2 linked regions of the Homo sapiens genome follow. The protein of the gene in region 1 interacts with the protein of each later gene in a pairwise test. Each region holds a gene or a part of one and is shown on either strand. Other genes may lie near its edges. The genes, in order: ZNF705D and GUCD1.

What was found.
Region 2: the proteins of ZNF705D (region 1) and GUCD1 interact in binary tests that used the Homo sapiens proteins (3 or more experiments, as listed by UniProt).

Annotation. Positions count from the first base shown.
Region 1 is NC_000008.11:12,082,785-12,094,058, forward strand, and holds the start of ZNF705D (zinc finger protein 705D), read left to right. Parts: upstream 1-6,553; 5' UTR 6,554-6,859; intron 6,860-11,274. UniProt on the Homo sapiens protein: May be involved in transcriptional regulation.
Region 2 is NC_000022.11:24,538,811-24,547,527, reverse strand, and holds the end of GUCD1 (protein GUCD1), read left to right. Parts: intron 1-522; coding exon 523-614; intron 615-3,444; coding exon 3,445-3,686; intron 3,687-4,427; coding exon of another isoform or gene 4,428-4,430; coding exon 4,431-4,522; 3' UTR 4,523-7,090; downstream 7,091-8,717.

The sequences.
Region 1 (11,274 bases):
TATATTAATGTCAGACAAAATAGACTTCAAGACAAAATTTTTATAACCAAAAGGATATTGTATAATATTAAAAGGGTCAATCCATTAATAAGATATAATAATTATAAATATGTATGCACCTAATAAGAGAGCCCTGAAATACATATATGCTAATATAACTGAAGAGAGAATAGCTAAAAAGTATGGATATTCTGATACTCTAAATTTAATAATACAAAATAACTAGATAGAAGACCGGTAAGAAAATGGAAAACTTGAGCAACACTATAAACCAGTAGACTAACAGACATCTATACAACACTCCAATTAACAACAGGTGAATACATATTTTTTTCTTAAGTAAACACAAAACAGTCTCCAGAATAGTCCACGTTAGGCCATAAAATAAATCTCAGAAAATTTTAAAATATTAAAATCATACAAAATACTTTCTCCAATCACTGTGGGATGAAACTAAAAATCAGTAACAGAAAAAAAAAACTGAAAAATTCACAAATATGTGAGAATTAAACACCATACCCCTACATAACCAATGTGTCCAAGAAGAAATCACAAAGGGAATTGAAAAATACTTGGAGAAGAACGAAAATGAAAATACAATCAGGGATGCAGCAAAAGCTAAGCTCAGATAAAAATTTATAGATGTAAACCCTTACCTTAAAAAAGAATGAATAAAATAGATAGCTAACATTCGAAATTCAGAACCCAGGAAAAGAAGAACTAATTAAATTCACAGCAAGCAGGAAAAATAAAATAATAAATATTAGAGCAAAGTGAAATAGAGAATAACAAAACAGTAGAGAAATCAACAAAACCAAAAGTTGATTATTTGAAAAGATCGAGAAACTTGACTAACCTTTTGCTATACTGACCAAGGAAAAAAGGAAGAATACATAAATTACTAAAATTAAAAATAAAGGCCAGGCGCGGTGGATCACGCCTGTAATCCCAGCACTTTGGGAGGCTGAGGCAGGCAGATCACGAGATCAGGAGATCAAGACCATCCTGGTTAACATGGTGAAACCCCGTCTCTACTAAAAAAATACAAAAAATTAGCCGGGCGTGGTGGCGGGCGCCTGGAGTCCCAGCTACTTCGGAGGCTGATGCAGGAGAATGGCGTGAACCCAGGAGACAGAGCTTGCAGTGAGCGGAGATGGCGCCACTGCACTCCAGCCTGGGCAACAAAGCGAGACTCTGTCTCAAAAAAAAAAAAAAAAAAAAAAAAAAAAGAGTGGGGATACTACTACCCAACTTACATAGATAAAAGAAATTATAAGAGAACCCTATGAATAATTGTATGTCAACAAATTAGATACCCTAAATAAAATGATGGACAATTTCTACAAATAAACTACCAAAACTGAGTCAAGAAGAAATAAAAAATACAGATAGACATATAACAAGTGACGGTAGTGAGTCTGTGATCAAAAACTTCCAAAAATATAATCCAGGACCAGATGGCTGTACTAGTGAATTTAATCACGTTTAAAGAATAATGAAGGCTAAGCTTTCCTACAGTCTTTAAAAAATTATGACACATTTCCAAACTAATTTTATGTGACCAGTATTACCCTGATATGAAAGCAAGACAAAGACATTACCAGAAATGAAAACTAGTCCAGTATTCTTTATAAATAAAGATACAAAAATTCTTAACAAAATACTTTAAAATGGAATCTAGCAATACATTAGAAGGATTATACACCACAACCAAGTGCAATTTATTTTAAGAATTGGCTTGTGGGCGGTGGCTCAAGCCGGTAATCCCGGCACTTTGGGAGGCTAAGGCAGGCAGGTCACTTGAGGCCAGGAGTTCGAGACCAGCCTGGCCAACATGGCAATACTCCATCTCCACTAAAGATACAAATTTAGCTGGGCGCGGTGGCGCACGACTGTAATTTCAGCTACTCCGGTGGCTGAGGCAAGAGAATCGCTTGAACCCGAGAAGCAGAGGCTGCAGTGAGGTGAGATTGCACCACTGCCCTCCAGCCTGGGTGACACAGCAAGACCCTGTCTCAAAAAAAAAAAAAAAAGAAGAAAAAAAAGAAGTTTTTTTAAATCTGCAAAATCAATCAATATTAGTAGAATAAAGGGAAAAAAAGCCACAATCGTCTCAAAAGACATAAACAATTATTTGACAAAATCTAGTGTCCTTTCATGATGACACTCAAGAAATCATAAATCCAAGACAATTTTCTCACCCTGATAACGAGCATCGATAAGAAAAGTGTAGCTAACATCATACCTAATAGTGAAAGACTAAAAGGTTTTCTCCTAAAAACAGGAACAAGAAAAGAATGTCTGCCCTTGACACTTCCGTTCAACAATGTGCTGAAAGTTCTAGCAAAGGCAATTAGGCTAAGAAGAAACTAAAGGCATTCGGAGGAAAGGAAGAAGCATTATTATCTCCATTAAGCCATGAAATGATATTACATGTAGAATACTCAAAAGAATTCACAAAAATCTATTAGGGCTAATAAACAATTTCAACAAAGTTTGAAGATACTAGATCAATATGCAAAAATCAGCTGCATTTCTTTTCTGTAATAGGAATGAACAACTTGGAAGTTAAATGAAGAAAACAATGATACTTACAATAGCATAAAACATTAAATACATAGGAAATAGTGCAATGAAGGAAGTGTAAGACTTGTCCGCTGAGTCTACAAAATATTTTTGAAAGAAAAAGAAGACCCAAGTGAATGGAAAGATTTCTCATGCTCATGAGTTGGAAGATTTAATATAATTTAACTGAAAATACTTCCCAAATTGATTTACAGATTTAATGCAACCCCTATCAAAATTCTGTCTTTTTGCAGAAATTGACAAAAATTATTCTAAAATTTATATAGAAATGAAAAGACGATTAAATATCCAAAACAATTTTGAAATAGAAGAACAAAGTGGGAGCACTCAAATTTCTCAATTTCAAAACTTACCTCAAAGTCACAATAATCTGAACAGTGTGATAATGGTGTAAGAATAGACATATAGACTGATAAAATCAAATTTAAAGTTCAGAAATAAACCCATTCATCTACATGCAATTGATTTTCAACAAGGGTGCCAAGAGCATTTAATGAGGAACGAATAGTCTTCAACAAATGGTGCTGGGACAACTGGATATCCACATGTAAAAGGAAAAATTTGTCTACCTCATGCCATATATGAGAATTAATTCAAAACTGACCAAAGACCTTAATGTGATAACTAAAATTGTAAATGTTTAGGAAAAAATGGTACAAATATTTGTGACCTTAGATTAGGCAATGCTTTCTTAAATATGACACCAAAAACATAGCCACAAAAAATAGTTAAATTGGACTTCATTTAAGTTAAAAATTTGAGTGCATTAAAGGATACTGCCAAGGAAGGGGAAAAAAGCCCAATGAATATGAGAAAAATATTTGAAAATTGGATTAATATCCAGAATATATAAAGAACTACTACAAATCAGCAGCAGCAACAACGACAATAAAACACAAATGATCTAAGAAATGATCAAAAGATTTGAATAGTTTTTTGAAAAAGATATTTAAGTGGGCTATAAGCACATGAAAGGGAAATGAAAAAACCACAATGAGATACCATTTGATATCGAGTGGAATAACTATTATCAAGAAAGATGGAAAATAACAAGTGTTGTGGAAAATGTGGAGAAATTGGATTCTCATACATTTCTGATGGAAACATAAAATGGTGGAGGTAGTTTGAAAAACAGGTTGGCATTTCTTAAAGAATTAAAAATAGAGTCACCATATAACCCAGCAATTCTACTCTTAGGTATATACTTAAGAAAATAGTTTCTACCTAAGAGTTGAAAAATTCTCAATGAATTCTCATAGCAGCATTATTCATAATAGTAAAAAAACCTGAAATAACCCAAATGCCCATCAGCTGATAAATATATAAACACAATGTGGTATATTTATATAACACAGTATTATTTATTGATAGAAGGAATGAAATAGCTATATATCCTACAACTTGGATGACCTTGAAAAATTATGTTAAGTTATGGAAGGCAGACACAAATGGGTATATATTTTATAATTCCAGTTATGTACTGTCCAGAATAGTCAAATCTATAAAGATAGAAAACAAATTAGTAGTTTCTGGGGATTAGAGAAGGAGTTTCTTTTTGGGGTGATGGAAAGGTTTTGGAATCAAATAGTGGTGATGGCTGCACAACATTGTAAATATACTAACATCTATTAAATTAAACAAATCAAAATGGTTGAAATAGTGAATATTTCATTGTGTGAATATTATCTTAATAAAAATTGTTTTGATAAATACGATGTTTTGGAGTGTCCCTTTTTCTTTTTTTCTTAGAAGAGTTGGATATAATTACAATTTTTTAAATTTCTGAAATGTGGTTGAAAATATAAGTTAAGTGCCCTCTTTTTTGGAAGGTTATTGATTACAGAATTAGTTGCTTTATTAATTCAGGAAAACATTCTTATTTTCTGTTTCATCTTGAGTTAATTTTGTCAAGTTTCGTTAATGGTTTTGCATATTTAAAGATGCTTCCTTTTTTCCTGTTACTTTTATTTGTGCATTTTATTTTCTTTGTAATTCATACTGCAAAGACTGAGATGTTTCTGTTTTCTATTATTATTTTCTTCTGAGATCAGATGAGATCAGGAGTGTTCATGATGGTATTGCCAAAGACTCACCATTATTATTTTCTAATATTAGCAATTATGACCCTGAATTTCCTCTTTAATATTATACCAATGGAATCCAAAAAGTTTTAATAAGTAATATTTTAATTTCAATATATTTATTTTTTCACTAAGATTTTTTTCTTTAATTAACTGGGTTTTAGAACAGTTTCTTATAATTTCATATCAGTGTGATAAATGAACACTTTCTGTAGAGTGTCAGTTATTTGACTTTTGTTAAGATTTGGCATGTAGAACAAATCGTTATATGGTCAATATTTGTGCATATTCAATATGTCCTATTAAAACTGTATTCTGTAGTTGTTGAATGAAGTTATTTGTAATTATTTCCTTCACAAAAATAGTAAATTTTTATTAACATCCAATGTATTATTGATGTTTAAAGTCTTCTTTTTCTTTGAATGACTAAGAAAAATAAGTTATAATCTCCCACTATAGTTTGGAATTTTTTCATTTTTCCTTGTAGGTTGCTCAATTTTTGTTTTATAAATTTGATGCTATGTTATTAAAGTGCACATATTTTGATGTATATATTTTTCTGGTACCACACTGTTTTGGTGACTATGATCTTATAGCATACTTTGAAATCAGGTAGTGTGATGCCTCCAGATTTGTTCTTATTGCTTTGTCTTGCTTTGGATATGTGGGCTCTTTTTTTGTTCCATATGAATTTTAGAATTGTTTTTACTAACTCTGAAGAATGATGGTGGTGTTCTGATGACTCCATGGGGGTCATCCACGTTGTAGGATATATAGCTATTTCATTCCTTCTATCAATAAATAATACTGTATTATATAAATATACCACAATGTGTTTATATATTTATCAGCTGATGGGCATTTGGGTTATTTCAGCTTTTTTACTATTATGAATAACGCTGCTATAAGAATTCACTGAGAATTTTTCAACTCTTACGTACAAACTTTTTTCTTAAGTATATACCTAAGAGTGGAATTGCTGGGTTATATGCTAACTCTATTTTTAATTCTTTGAAAACTGCCAACCTGTTTTTCAAACTGCTTCCACCATTTTGGTGGTTTAAGGCTCTATTTTTTGTGCTGATGGGCCTCCTGCTGGGAGATGGCGCTTTCCAGAAAGCATCCGCTGTAGTAGTGTTGAGAGATGACAACATGCTAGCAACCCTCGCTTGCTCTCAGTGCCTCCTTGGCCTCGGCGTCCACTCTGGTTGCACTCGAGGAGCCCTTCAGCCCGCCACTGCACTGTGGGGGTCCCTCTCTGGGGCTGGTCAAGGCCGGAGCCGGCTCCCTCTGCTCGCAGGGTGTGGAGGGAGAGGCCGTGGTGGGAGCCGGGGCTGCGTGTGGCCCTTGTGGGCTGGCGCGGGTTCTGCGTGGGCGCGGGCTCGGTGGGCCCCACACTTGAGGCGGCTGGCCGGTGCCTGCTGGGCTTGACCGGGGGATGAGCTCTCTCTAGGCTGCTGGAGTGCCAGGGCTGGGTGCTGCAAAGTCCTGTCTGGCGAGTGCCATCAAGAGGTGAAGCCGGCTGGGCTTCTGGGCCCGCTGGGGACTTGGAGAACTTTTCTGTCTAGCTAAATGATTGTAAAAGCACCAATCAGCACTCTGTGTCTAGCTAAAACTTTGTAAATGCACCAATCAGCGCTCTGGGTCTAGCTAATCTGGTGGGGGACTTGAAGAACTTTTGTGTCCAGCTAAAGGATTTTAAATGCACCAATCAGCACTCTGTCTAGCTAAAGGTTTGTAAATACACCAGTCAGCACTCTGTCAAAACGGACCAATCAGCTCTCTGTAAAATGGACCAATCAGCAGGATATGGATGGGGGCCAGACAAGGGAATAAAAGCAGGCCACCGGAGCCCACAGCTCAACAGGCTTGGGTCCCCTTCCATTCTGTGGGAAGTTTGTTCTTTCGCTTTTTGCAACATAGCTTGCTGCTGCTCACTCTTTGGTTTCGTGCCGCCTTTAAGCGCTGTAACACTCACTGCGAAGGTCTGCAACTTCACTTCTGAGGCCAGCCAGACCATGAACCCACTGGGAGGAATAAGCAACTCTGGACACACCATCTTTAAGAATTGTTAACACTCACCAGGAGGGTCTGCGGCTTCATTCTTAAACTCAGCGAGACCAAGAACCCACCAATTCCGGACACTGTGGAGAGGGACCAGTGGTGGGCAGGGCTCCAGAACTCCAAAGATCGTATGTTCTTTGTCTTCTGCTACCAGGGTGGATATGGAAGGACCATCAGGTGGGGGTGGGGCTAGGCGTGCCTGAGCTCAGACTCTCCTTGGGTGGGTCTTGCTTTGGCTGCTGTGGGGGATGGAGGTGAGATTCCCAGGTCAGTGGAGTTGTGTACCTAGAAGGATTATGGCTGCCTCTGCTGAGTCATGCAGGTTGTCAGGGAAGTTGGGGAAAGCTAGCTTCCAGGCACGCTGAAAGGCGGGTCTCACTCCCACAATGCCCCTTGTGATAGCCCGGAGTCTGTTTCCAGGCCGAAGGCGAATCTGGCTTGAAAACTTACCTGAGGCTTTCTGCCTCCCGACTGACAAAGAAATGGGCTTCAGTTCTTACCCCGCCTGTGAAGTCTGCAAGCCTGATTCACGCCCTCCCCCGAGTTCTGGCCAGGAGGCTTCCAGCCCCATTCAATTTTTTACAAAGTTCAGCTAGAGAGGTTCTTCTCCCTGTGAAGTTTTACCCCCTGCTCCTCTGGCCACCCCCCCGATGGATGTCTGCCGTGCCAGGCAGGAATGGGCTACTTGGGGATCCAGCGGCCTTCCAGTGCCTTTGTGCTACTTCCTCTACTCCTGTATGTTGCTCAGCTCGGCTCTCTAACTTGACTCAGCTCCAGGTAAAGTCACGAACTTCTCCCACAAACAGACTTTCAGCTTCTCCAGTGGGGGTGTGTGTTCATGAGACGAGGGTCTCCCTTTCCCATTTCCGTGGTTAGGGGACTTAAAGTATTTGGGGTGTCTCCCAGGTCCTGCAAGAGCAGTCTGCTTCCTTCGGAGGGTCTGTGGGTCCTGTCAGGATTGCTGGTCTGCTCTTGCAGTCCATCTGGAGCTAAAATTCACAACGCAAGCCTCCGCATGCTGCTCTGTCCAGAGCTGCCATCTAGTTCTGCCTCCTGTCTGTCATAATCCCTCATGACCCTTGAGCTTTTTTTTTCATATGATTGTTGGCAGCATGTATGTCTTCTTTTGAGAAGCGTCTGATCATGTTTTTGCCTATTTTTAAAGGTTTTTTTTTTTTGTAAATTTCTTTAAGTTCCTTGTAGATGCTGTATATTGGATCTTTGTCGAATGCATAGCTTGCAAAAGTTTTCTCCCATTCTGCAGGTTGTCTTTTTGCTCTGTTAATAGTTTCTTTTGCTGCCCAGAAGCTCCTTAGTTTAATTACATCCCATTCGTCAATTTTTGCTTTTGTCACAATTGCTTTTGGTGTCATTGTTATAAAATTTTCGCCCGTGCCTATGTCCTGAATGGTATTGCCTAGGTTGTCTTCCAGGGTTTTTATAGTTTTGTGTTTCACACTTAAGTCTTTAATCCATTTAATCCTGCATATGAAGACCGATCTTTATGTTTAGAAATTCTTTCATCTTCTTAATCTAGTCTATTGTTGAGGTTCTCAAATTGTATTATTTATTTTATTTATTGAATTATTCAATTTCAGCTGTTAAATTCCTTTTCACTCATTTTATGGATTTGTTTGATTGAAATCTGTTGCTGGAGAATTATTGGTTTTCCTTCAGGGATGCTATGTTTCCTTGCTCTTTAATGTTTCTTATGTCCTTACATTGATATTTGAATATCTGGTAAAACAGTTGCTTCTTCTAATTTTATAGATTGGCTTTGGTAGTAAAAGACTGACTTCTGTAGCTGTATCTATACTGTTGAATCAGTAAGACACTTTGCCTTTAGTTCTGAGTTGGTTCAGTAGTTTATACTTCTATGATTTCTTCAGCTATAATCAGCATCACTGATGTCTGTGAGCTCCTCAGTGTCTTAGCCTTCATTGTTAATGGAGGCTGTGGTGAGATTTTGCTGGGGAAAGACAGGCCAGGCAGTTTGGTCCTTGGGCACCAGTTGCATTGGTCTTTGAACTTGTGGGTGATGAACGTGGGCACCAGTGGTTGAAGTTTCAGGCAGGCCATCCTTGGGCCTTCAGGTGGCTTTTTTTTTTTTTTTTGAGATGAAGTTTTGCTCTGTTGCCCAGGCTGGTGTGCAATGGTGTGTTCTCAGCTCACTGCAACCTCCGCCTCCCAGGTTCAAGCAATTCTCCTGCCTCAGCCTCCCGAGTAGCTGGGATTACAGGCATGCACCTCCATGCCCGGCTAATTTTGTATTTTTTTTTTTTTGTTTTTTTTTTTTAGTAGAGATGGAGTTTCTCCATGTTGGTCAGGCTGGTCTTGAACTCCCGACCTCAGGTGATCTGCCCCCTTCAGCCTTCCAAAGTGCTGGGATTACAGGCGTGAGTCAGGTGGCTTTCTCAAGTGCCAGCAGTGACAGTGGTGAGCTAGGGAGATAGGCATGCCCTCAAGACCCTGTGCTGTAGTCATAGCAGGTCAACTCTTGTGACCCCAGATGGCATGTGCAGACACCAACAGTCGTGGCAACATGATGGACAGAGTAGTCCTCAGGCTTTCACCTGGTGCAAATATGTGGGCATTGGTGGCAGCCGTGATGGCAGGCTGGGAAGTCCTATCCTTAGGCTCTCAGGAGACACACAGGTACTTGATGGTGATAGGCATGGTGGATTAATCCCCAGGCTCCCAGACAATGTGCACAGGCACCACCAGGCTGGGTGGGCTCATACTTAGGTCACAAGAAGGCATGCACAGGTGCCAATGACAGACAGCAGTGTGGGTTGATCCCCAGCGTCCTGGACAACGACCTTGGGTAGTGGTAGTGACAGCAATGGGTGGGATGGGCCTGTGCTCTGGCCCTGGAATAGTGCTCAGGCAGGTGAGTCCCCAGGTCCCCTGAGGATGCCTGCAGGTGTGCAGTGGCCCTGCTCCTGGGGGTCAGGATTGCTGTCAGTGTCAGTGGTCCTGGGAAGGTGACTCTCCACTTGTGAAGAGTGCCTGCTTCAGCTCCCTTTGTTCTGGGGGCAGCCTCTCTAGTGAATGGCACTGCCAGTTCCCTGGAGTGTAGGACACTGTGTAGGCTAGAGTGATGGGGACCAAGCTACACTGGTGAGTTCAGCTGGTATTGTGACTCTGCAGGCCTCTGGATGGACATGAGGGAATGTCACTGAGGGTCCAGAGATGTGGAGATGCAGGGGCTGTTGGGCCCCAGGGCAGGATGTAGTCTTTTGGGGGCTGGGCTCTCAAATTGGCATTGTGCCACAGCTGCCTGTGTCTGGGGGCAGGTGCAGATGATCCAGTGCCAACTCCTTCTCTGGGACAATGACCATCACATACACTCCAGGCAGCTCCCTATAGTAGTCTCAGGGCCTGCGAGGGCTGAGAGACCGTCCCTTGGCTAGGATTGCAGTGTCCACAGTGGGAATATGGACCACTGGGGCTCTCTTTTTTACCTTTTCACCACACTGCAGAGCCTGTCCTGGCTTTAAGCTGATTCTGGCTGGGCTGCTGCTTCATTTTCCTTTCCTTCCATGCCTCAGAGATTCCTCGTCACTTTGCTGCTGAATTCTAGTGCCCTCTTTCATGCCCTCTTCAAGGTATGATTATCTACTTGCTGTTTTGGTCTTTCTTTGGGAGGACACAGTGCCTGGTACCTCTAGTCAGCCATCTTGAAGGCCACCTCCTAGCAATGAGAAGATAATATTCTAGGTGACGGCTTTAATATACGTGTCCAAACTGCTTCTTTTCTAGGGAAGCACTTACTCTAAGAAATAAATGTTATATAGTGCAAAAATATATTAAAGGGTCAGTTGGTGATGCGGTTTCAAGAGTGGCACTGAGGAAAACTTGGCACTTCCACAGGGTTGAGTTGGTTGGAATATATCTCAATCTCTGAGATTTTGAACCCAATGTTTTGAACTTTTTGAGATTTCGAGTAGTCCATGTGACATAACTTAACATTGTTTCTTGGCCAAATCAGTCATAGTGAAAAATAAAATCCAGCTAATATACTTTTAAATATCTTGATTCTATACTCTTTCAATGACCAAGGGGAGGCCCCTCACTACTTTACACAAAAAAGAAAACTCTATGAATGAGAATCTCTTCACACAAAGCCACTAAAATTGTGTCTAAATGGAGCAAAATTGTGACAGGTGGTAAAAGCACTCAGTGGCTGTTGTAGGCAGAATAATGTCCCCTCTGTCTCCTGCCAAAGCTATCCACATCCTAACTCCTGGGTCCTGTGAATGTGCCACCTTGTAAGGCAAAGGGGAATTGAGGTTTCATGTGAAATTAAGGCTGTTAATCAGCTGACCTTAAAATAGGGAGATTATCTTAGATTATCCAGGTGGGCCCAACGTAATCATGAGTCCTAAAAAATGGAAGAGTGGGGAGAAGATGAATTCAGAATGATGGAATGTGAGGACTCAATGCTCCATTGCTGGCTTTGAAAATGGATGAAGGAAGCTATGGTTCCCAGGAGTAGCCTGTCATTGCTGGGATAAAGGTGCAGGAAGAAAACTGCAGAGCT
Region 2 (8,717 bases), on another chromosome or scaffold:
TCACCAGGAGAGCCAGCTTTTAAGCTATATAATTGGTAGTCTAGAAGAAAACCAAAATACCATCTTTTCTTTTTTTTGCCTTTTGAAAAATAATGCCAACATAGCCATGCCAGCAAAGTGTGTTCCGTGGACGACACCTAGCTAAGCCAAGCTGTAGCTGAGCTGTCCCAGGTGGTTCAGCCTCATCCCCCTTGCTTATTCGCTACGGGCTCCTGCTCATGCCTGCCAGAGTGTACAAGCCCAAGGGTGATCGATCCTCCCCAGAGAGCTGACCTGAGCCCAGCTGCCCACCCCTCTCTCAAGCATCATCCTCATGCCTCTGTGTGGTCCTGCTTCCCTGCTCCTGCTTAGGACAGACAGCTTTCTGATCTGGCTTGCTGCATGTACCGTCTGCCCTGGCAGGTGGGGCTCCTCTGCCCTCCTGCTGTCTCTGCCTCTGTAACACGCTCTTTATTTCCTTCATCTAAATGGAGTGAAGGCAGCCTGGGTGGTGGCCACTCCATCCCCCTCTTCTCTGTTCAGTCCTTCTACAGGAAGCACTTTGACACAGAAGAGACCCGGGTGAATCAGCTGTTTGCACAAGCAAAGGCCTGCAAGGTGCTGGTGGAGAAATGGTGAGCCCCCCAACTTTCCTACCTGCCCTTCCTCTCATGCCTGCTCACCCACAGATCTGCAGTGGGGAGGCCTCGGGATGGTGTTCAGGAAAGGCTAGGACTCTGGAGCCAGGCAGAACTGGCTACCCGGGTGGCTGTGGGCACTGACTTGCCCCCTTGAGCCTTGGTTTATGGAGCTCACTGGGGCTACATGACCCAGGCTCTGACCAGGGGTGGATCCTGAGCAGGTGCTGGAGGGATAGGTGAGTGAGAGAGATTGCACCCAGCCCTTGGGCTACTTGCAGAAAGACAGCATGGGACAGAACACAAGGCCCCTAATGAAAGGGCGATGGCCTAAGAGGAATGTGCTGGTGCAGTGATTGACAAGGGATGGGGAACAGGGAGGACCCAGTGTGTAAGGGCTGCTGTGACCTTACAAGGGCCTCCTCTTCTCATCTGTATGCATTGGGGCTGGATTCAGGAAGACTCTGGGTGCAGTTTGCCCAGATGTGGGTCACATTCTTTTCTGGGCTACGTGGGAGTGGGGCTCAGACCTGCTGCCTCTAGGTCCTGGACAGGCTCTTCTCAGATTTTCCCTTTCTTTGCGGATTTATATTTTCATTATTGACGTAGTATAATCACATGATAGGTGATTTAGAAAATGGGGGTTTGGGGGCCGGGCGCGGTGGCTCACGCCTGTAATCCCAGCACTTTGGGAGGCTGAGGTGGGCGGATCACGAGGTCAGGAGATCGAGACCATCCTGGCTAACACGGTGAAACCTTGTCTCTACTAAAAATACAAAAAATTAGTCGGGCGTGGTGGCAGGCGCCTGTAGTCCCAGCTACTCGGGAGGCTGAGGCAGGAGAATGGCCTGAACCCAGGAGGCGGAGCTTGCAGTGAGCCGAGATAGTGCCACTGCACTCCGGCCTGGGGGACAGAGCGAGACTCTGTCTGAATCTGCCCTCAAGGAAACAGAAAGGCAAATCCAGGATGTGGGACATTTTCCAAGAGTACTGCCCCGGGCTTTAAAAATCAACAAAACAGGCCGGGCACGGTGGCTCACGCTTGTAATCCCAGCACTTTGGGAGGCCGAGGCGGGCGGATCACGAGGTTAGGAGATCGAGATCATGGTGAAACCCCGTCTCTACTAAAAATACAAAAAATTAGCTGGGCGCAGTGGCGGGTGCCTGTAGTCCCAGCTACTCGGGAGGCTGAGGCAGGAGAATGGCATGAACCCAGGAGGCGGAGCTTGCAGTGAGCCGAGATCGCGCCACTGCACTCCAGCCTGGGCAACAGAGACAGACTCTGTCTCAAAAAAAAAAAGAATATAGTGGGGTGGGATCTCCATTCATACTATGACCACATGGGCACATGTTGGAAGGAAAGGCAGCAAATGTTTATTTAGCAGCCCTCAACAGGTGCTGTCTCCTTGAGTGGGAAAGCTGTTGCTATCTCTGCTTCTCGGGGGAGGAAACTGAGGAGGAGAGAGACACCCAAGGTCACCCCCAGCATCTTGGCCATGCCATGATCTGAACCCATGCTTGTTATTCCTTGAAGCCTGTAGTTTTTCCTTCCAGCCAAGCCCCTGCTTTTTCCCTATAGCTGAAATCCCACTCCTGTGCACTGCCACTGGGAACTCAGCCAGCTATTTTGTTTCAAAGACCAAATGGAAAAATGGCATGTTTCCTTGGCCAAGGCAGCAATCCAAACTGCCACGTGACTCAGCTGTGGCTGAAGCTGGGTCAGGCCACATGGTACTGATGCTGCCACTCCTAAGGAAGGCCCCAAGTGGGTGAGCAGCCCCTCCAGCAAAGATGCAGGAGCCCCTGGCCTAGAGCTCCCCCTGCCCACAGCCCCATCTGCCCTCTGTCCCTCTGGGTGTTTTCTTTTCTTTTCTTTTTTTTTTTTTTAAGAGACAGGGTCTTAATCTGTCATACAGGCTGTAGTGCTGTGGCGCAATATTGCAATACAGCTCACTGCTACAGCCCCAGGCTTAAGTGATCTTCTTGCCTCAGTCTCCCGAGTAGCTGGAACCACAATCTCATACCACCACGCCCCACGCCTGGTAAATTTTTAAATGTTTTTGTAAAGACAGGGTACTGCTGTGTTGCCCAGGCTGGTCTCTAATTCCTAGTCTCAAGCGATCCTTCCGCTTTGGCCTCCCAAAGCACTGGGATTACAGGTGTGAGCCACTGTGCCCAGCCCTGCTCTAGGTTTTCATTTGGATTTGCTGCCTAGTGGAAGGCACAGGATGGGGCAGTGCCTTCTGCCAGTGAGGGAGGCTCCAGGTAGATGTCATTGCTGAACTGGAGCTCCCCTGGAAGCAATGTGGCCCAGCCCTTCCTGGGCAGCCCCTTCTGCCACCAGGAGCCTTAGAAAAAAAGTAAAATAGCTCTTTCAGAGAAGCATTTGGTTTTGAAAGTGTCTGAGCCATGCTTGGCTGGCAGTTTTCAATGTAAACCACACATGATTTAGGGTAGAGGAGAGACAGGGCTGGGCAAAAAGAATTCACTAACCAGGCTGGGGTGCAGTAGGAGGATGGTTTCTGTGTGCTGCTCTAGTGGCCCTTGACTGGACCCACCTGGAGCTGAATGCTCTCCCCGTGAAGGGCCTGACAGAGCCAGCTCATCTTTGTGCACATTCAGACACACACACACACCCCCCCCACCGGTCTCCTGCTTGGCTCTAGGCTGAGCCTGGGCCACAGTGACAGAGCAGGGAGTTCAGGGCAAAGGGAAAAGGAGCCGATCCCCAAGCTTTGTAACAGAGAAACAGGCACAAGCAGGGATCCATTTGAGGGATGGGGAATGGGGGCCCAGCAGCACCAGCTGACCCCCCTCCCGCCCACAGCACAGTGAGTGTGAAGGACATCCAGGCGCACCTGGCTCAGGGCCATGTGGCCATCGTGCTGGTGAACTCGGGGGTGCTGCACTGTGACCTGTGCTCCAGCCCTGTCAAGTACTGCTGCTTCACCCCCAGTGGCCACCACTGCTTCTGCCGCACTCCTGACTACCAGGGCCACTTCATCGTGCTGCGTGGCTACAACCGGGCCACTGGCTGCATCTTCTACAACAACCCAGCCTATGCCGACCGTGAGTGCTGGGTGGGGTGGGTGAGGCAGAGTGGTCCACATTCACTGTTCTGTATGCCCAGTGCCCACAGTTCCCACCCATTCAATCTAGTGTGGCCAGGGCCTCCCTCCCTACCTTTTCCCCAAAGCCCCTGCTCCTCCTGGGCTCTTGTCACTGTGGCCACCCCTCAGGCCATGCAGGCAAACCTGCCGCAAACTGTGCCAGCCTCCTCTACACCCTGGCCACCCCTCCCTCTCACACCACAGGCCCCACGCCACTGCCCAGGTCCCTGCCTTACCCTTTCATGCTGCCCAGGCTGCACCCCTCCCCCAACCACCAGGATGGCCGGCACATTCCTCAGAAAGAAAAGCCCGGCCAGACCCAGCCCCTGCTCTAGACCCATCCTGGCCTGCCTACTGCCCTCCGGGCACAGGGAAGGGCTGCCCTGACTCTCATAGACTGGATTCACATAGACAGCCCCTGGACGCCCTGACCACATAGACTTACCCCGTCTATGTGGCCTGGAGCACGTTTCTGCCCCTCTCTGGGCCTTTCTCCAACTGCTTTACTGGGGAGGAGTCAGAGAAACCTCATGAAGACCAGGATGGGCAAGGAGGGCTTCCTGGGGGTGGAGGACTTGAGTTGAGAGGAATGGCCATGTGGATGGGAAACAGACCTCACTCAGCTCCCCTGGGCACTGTGTCGGTGGTGTAGGTGCTCTCTCACAACCCACTGACCCCGTTCTGCCTTCCCCACCCCCAGCAGGAATGTGCAGCACCAGCATCAGTAACTTTGAGGAGGCCAGAACCAGCTATGGCACAGATGAGGACATCCTCTTTGTCTACTTGGACAGCTGACAGCAGGAGCCTGGTGCGCCTAGGCCCTCGGACCCCATCCCCACCCCAGCCGGGCCCGCTCAGGATGCCCTGGCCCAGGCTTGGGGCTGCTGGGGTTGGAATGTGGAACTGCAGCCTCAGCCCATCTGGCAGAGTCCCAGGAACTCGGAGACTGGCACAGCTGCTTTGTCTGCCAGTGCCGTGTGTTGTCATGTCACTCACCCCAAGCACCTGCTGGCTGCTGGAAGCATACCCCAAGACCCCAAGCCTTGACTCCAGCTGCGCCCACAGGAAGTCCAGTCCCGACAGTGCCCTTGTTGCCTTTGAGCCAGATCCATGGCAATGGTCTCCCCACAGACCGCAGGACTGAGCCTGGAGAGAGAAGTTGCTTGACGGATGCCACTTGTCAGGACAGTATGTGAGTGTCTGGAGACAGCATAGCTGACCCCAATCCCCCAGGGCTGAGGACCCCTCCAGGCCCCTCTCTCCTGGAAGTGCTGCATATGCCCCTGTGCCCAGTGGTTGATGATACCACCACCACCTGCCTACCCATGGGCCCAAGTTTCTGTGGCTCATTACAGGGCATCTGACCCCTGCCACCCAGCATAGACACACCTCACAGCTGCCCTGCCATGCAGAGCCCTGGCCGCTGGAGACTCTTAAAGCCCCCACAGCCCTCCAGGTCCTCCAGCTCTGTCAGATGGAGGGCTCTCGGGCCTAGATCCCACTGGTAGGCCTCGTGGCTGGCAGCAGTGCTCTGGGAATAAACAGCTGCCCTAGCCCCAGAGGGATCCCTGCACCCAGGAGGCCTCCTGACACCAGCCAAAATCCTGACAGCAGGGTCTGCCCTCTTGAGTGTGGGGAGCCCCTAGTCCTTTAAGGTTGGCTGCTAAGGCCTGTGCTCCAAAGCAACGGGCTGGGGCAGCCTGCAGCTGCCCACCCAACCTGGTCTTCACACCAGATTGCACAGGATACTGGGTCTTGTCTATCTTGATGGAGAAGAGGGGTTCCTGCCCAGGATCTTACAACACAGCAAGTAGCATAGAGCTCTTTCCTTCCTCTTTTTTGGGGAGGTTGGGGTCAGGGGTTGTTTCTTTGAGATTTAAGTTTTCATTTTTGAGGGGTAATCACCTTCAAGTAAAACAGTAATAGCAAGAGTGAAGGTACTTTGGAACCACTAACACCTCTGCACAGGGCAGTTAGCCAGCTCAAGTTCTTTTTCAGAGAAAGGGACTTGGCCAGTGGTTTAAGTACCTGCCCCTTCACCTCTCAGACGAGGCAGCTGACGAGGCAGCTGGCCCAGTCTTGGGAGTCTGCTCAGGACAGTGGTGGAGCTGGGTCTTGAACCCCAGTCTGCACCTAAAAAACTAAAGGAAATGGATTTTTTTTTTTTTTTTTGAGACGGAGACTCACTCTGTTGCCCAGACTGGAGTGCAGTGGCACGATCTTGGCTTACTACAACCTCCGCCTCCTGGGTTCAAGCGATCCTCCTGCCTCAGCCCCCCACTAGCTGGGACTACAGGCACATGCCACCATGCCCGGCTAATTTTTTTGTATTTTTAGTAGAGACCAGGCTTCGCCATGTTGGCCAGGCTGGTCTCGAACCCCTGAGCTCAGGTGATCCACCTGCCTCGGCCTCCCAAAGTGGGAAATGGGTCATTTTCAAAGGGGCAACAGTGATACCATCCCTGCACTCCTGGGTCCTGCTCTTCCAATGCCCAAGGCATGGCATGGTGGCAGCTGTGCCCCCGCCCATTGCTTTGGAGCACAGATGACTCTGGGGGCAGAGGTGGGCTCTGTTTAGGAGGGCAGTGAGACCACCCAGCCAAATTGCTTCTCAACCCTAGACAAAGCCTTTGGCCAAGAGGGAGGTGCTGTTAGTTGGGCAGCCCTTCTGGGTTTCAGAGACCGGTGTTGGCTCTAGACTGGTCTCATCTCCATTGCCTTAATGCCAGGTGGCCCAGGAGTACCCATGCACAGCAGCTGTGGGGTGTGGGCATCTTCAGGTGGTGTTCTGGTAAAATTGTTAGAATAGCTGTATGAAGGAAACCAGTGGGAGGAAATGAAGTTTTCAGGATGGTGGGATGTGATTTAGACAGTGCACATGCTGTTAGGGCTGTCACTAGGGAGTGGCCTTCATGGAGGGTGGTAACAGCACCTCAGTCCAGCCAAAATGTTTAGAAACACTCAGTCTCTGGTCCCAGAGGATGGCTTCTCAGGGCATGCCACAAGTTAAAGGTCACCTTCCTGAAAGATGAATGAGAAAGCTGCCCATTCTCAAGACTCATCTGCCTAGGGAGGGTCACAGAGGCAGGATGTAAGACACACTGTGTTGCATTCTTGCACAAGTCATGAAAATGGAGCCAGAGAGCCTGGACATCAGGGACTTTTGCCCACAGCACATGACACCGACAGCTGCCCAGCCTGTTCACATGCTGGGGACCAGCACAGCACCTGAAGCCATGTGGGACAGTTGGGCTTTGTTCATTCTAGCCACGGGGATGAAAGGGATCTTTTGCATTGCAGAGATTTTATATATATTTTGTTTGTAATGAGCCATTCTCAATAAACATTATTCTCACTGCAAAATGGTGGTAGCCCCTGGCTGGCCTTTATGAAGCTGTGTTGATCTGCAGAATTCCTGTCCCTTCTCAAGTTCTCAGCATGAGCACATGGGAACCCAGGTCCTTGTCTTGCCATACCCAGTTTAGCTGGGACTGGAATCCTGTTTTCTGTTTTCTAGGGCCATATCCATCCCGTTCAGGCCTGGATGCTTGTGCCTGTCCTGGACAGGCAGTACTAGAGGTAGAAGGGCCTCGGGGCTCAGCTCAAGTGAACTGCAACAAATGCAACTACAGGAGACACAACAGAATGAGGGAGATGTTGAAGCAGGAGAGACGAAAGTGGGTGGGATGGTGAGTGCTGGGTGGAGCTGGCTGCTCAGAGCATGCAGAGTTGGGGTTGAGGTAGACAGACCAAGAGTGCAGTAGTGCGATCTCGGCTCACTCCAACCTCCACCTCCTGGGTTGAAGCAATTCTCCTGCCTCAGTCTCCTGAGTAGCTGGGATTACAGGCACACACGACCACGCCCGGCTAATTTTTGTATTCTTAGTAGACACAGGTTTTACCATGATGTTGGCCAGGCTGCTCTCGAACTCCCAGCCTCAAGTGATCTGCCTGCCTCAGTCTCCCAAAGTGCTGGGATTACAGGCATGAGCCACTGTGCCTGGCCAATGTCATCACTTTTAAAGAAGCACTTCTGTTCCTTCCCATCCTCCCTCAAACACATCATCTTGTCTGTCTCCACTGCTATAGCCCCAGTATCTGACACCTAGTAGATGTTCAGTAAATGTGAGTGAACGGATAGTAGGCTAAAACAATACCTGTTTCAGCAGCTTTCCTGTACTTTTCAGAACTAAAAGTAATCATTAAAGGGGAGGCAGAAGGCCGGGCACGGTGGCTCATGCCTGTAATCCCAGCACTTTGGGAGGCCAAGGCGGGCAGATCACCTGAGGTTGGGAGTTCGTGACCAGCCTGACCAACATGGAGAAACCCTATCTCTACTAAAAATACAAAATTAGCTGGGCATGGTGGCACATGCCTGTAATCCCAGCTACTCAGGAGGCTGAGGCAGGAGAATTGCTTGAACCCGGGAGGTGGAGGTTGTGGTGAGCTGAGATCACATCATTGCACTCCAGCCTGGGCAACAAGAGCAAAACTCTGTCTCAAAAAATTAATAATAATAATAAAGGGGAGGCAGAACTTGAATCCTTTGATGTCACCCAGGATTCAGGAGACACTCTCTCCTACAAGGAATGGTGGAAGGAGCAAGATGTACTGCCCATTAGAAAAGCTTCAAGTGACCAGGTGTAGTGGTTCACGCCGGTAATCCTAGCACTTTGGGAAGCAAAGGCTGGAGGATCACTTGAGGCTAGAAGTTCAAGACTTGTGTGGGGCCGGGCACAGTGGCTCATGCCTGTAATCCTAGCACTTTGAGAGGCTGAGGTAGGTGGATCATTTGAGCCCAGGAGTTTGAGACTAGCCTGGGCAGCATGGCAAAATCTTGCCTCTACAAAAAATTAGCCGGGCATGGTGGCACGTGCCTGTGGTCCCAGCTGTTCAGGAAGCTGAGGTGACAGGACCTCCTGAGCCCAGGAGGTCAAGGCTGCAGTGAGCTGTGATTGTGCCACTGTACTCCAGCCTGGGCAACAGGACA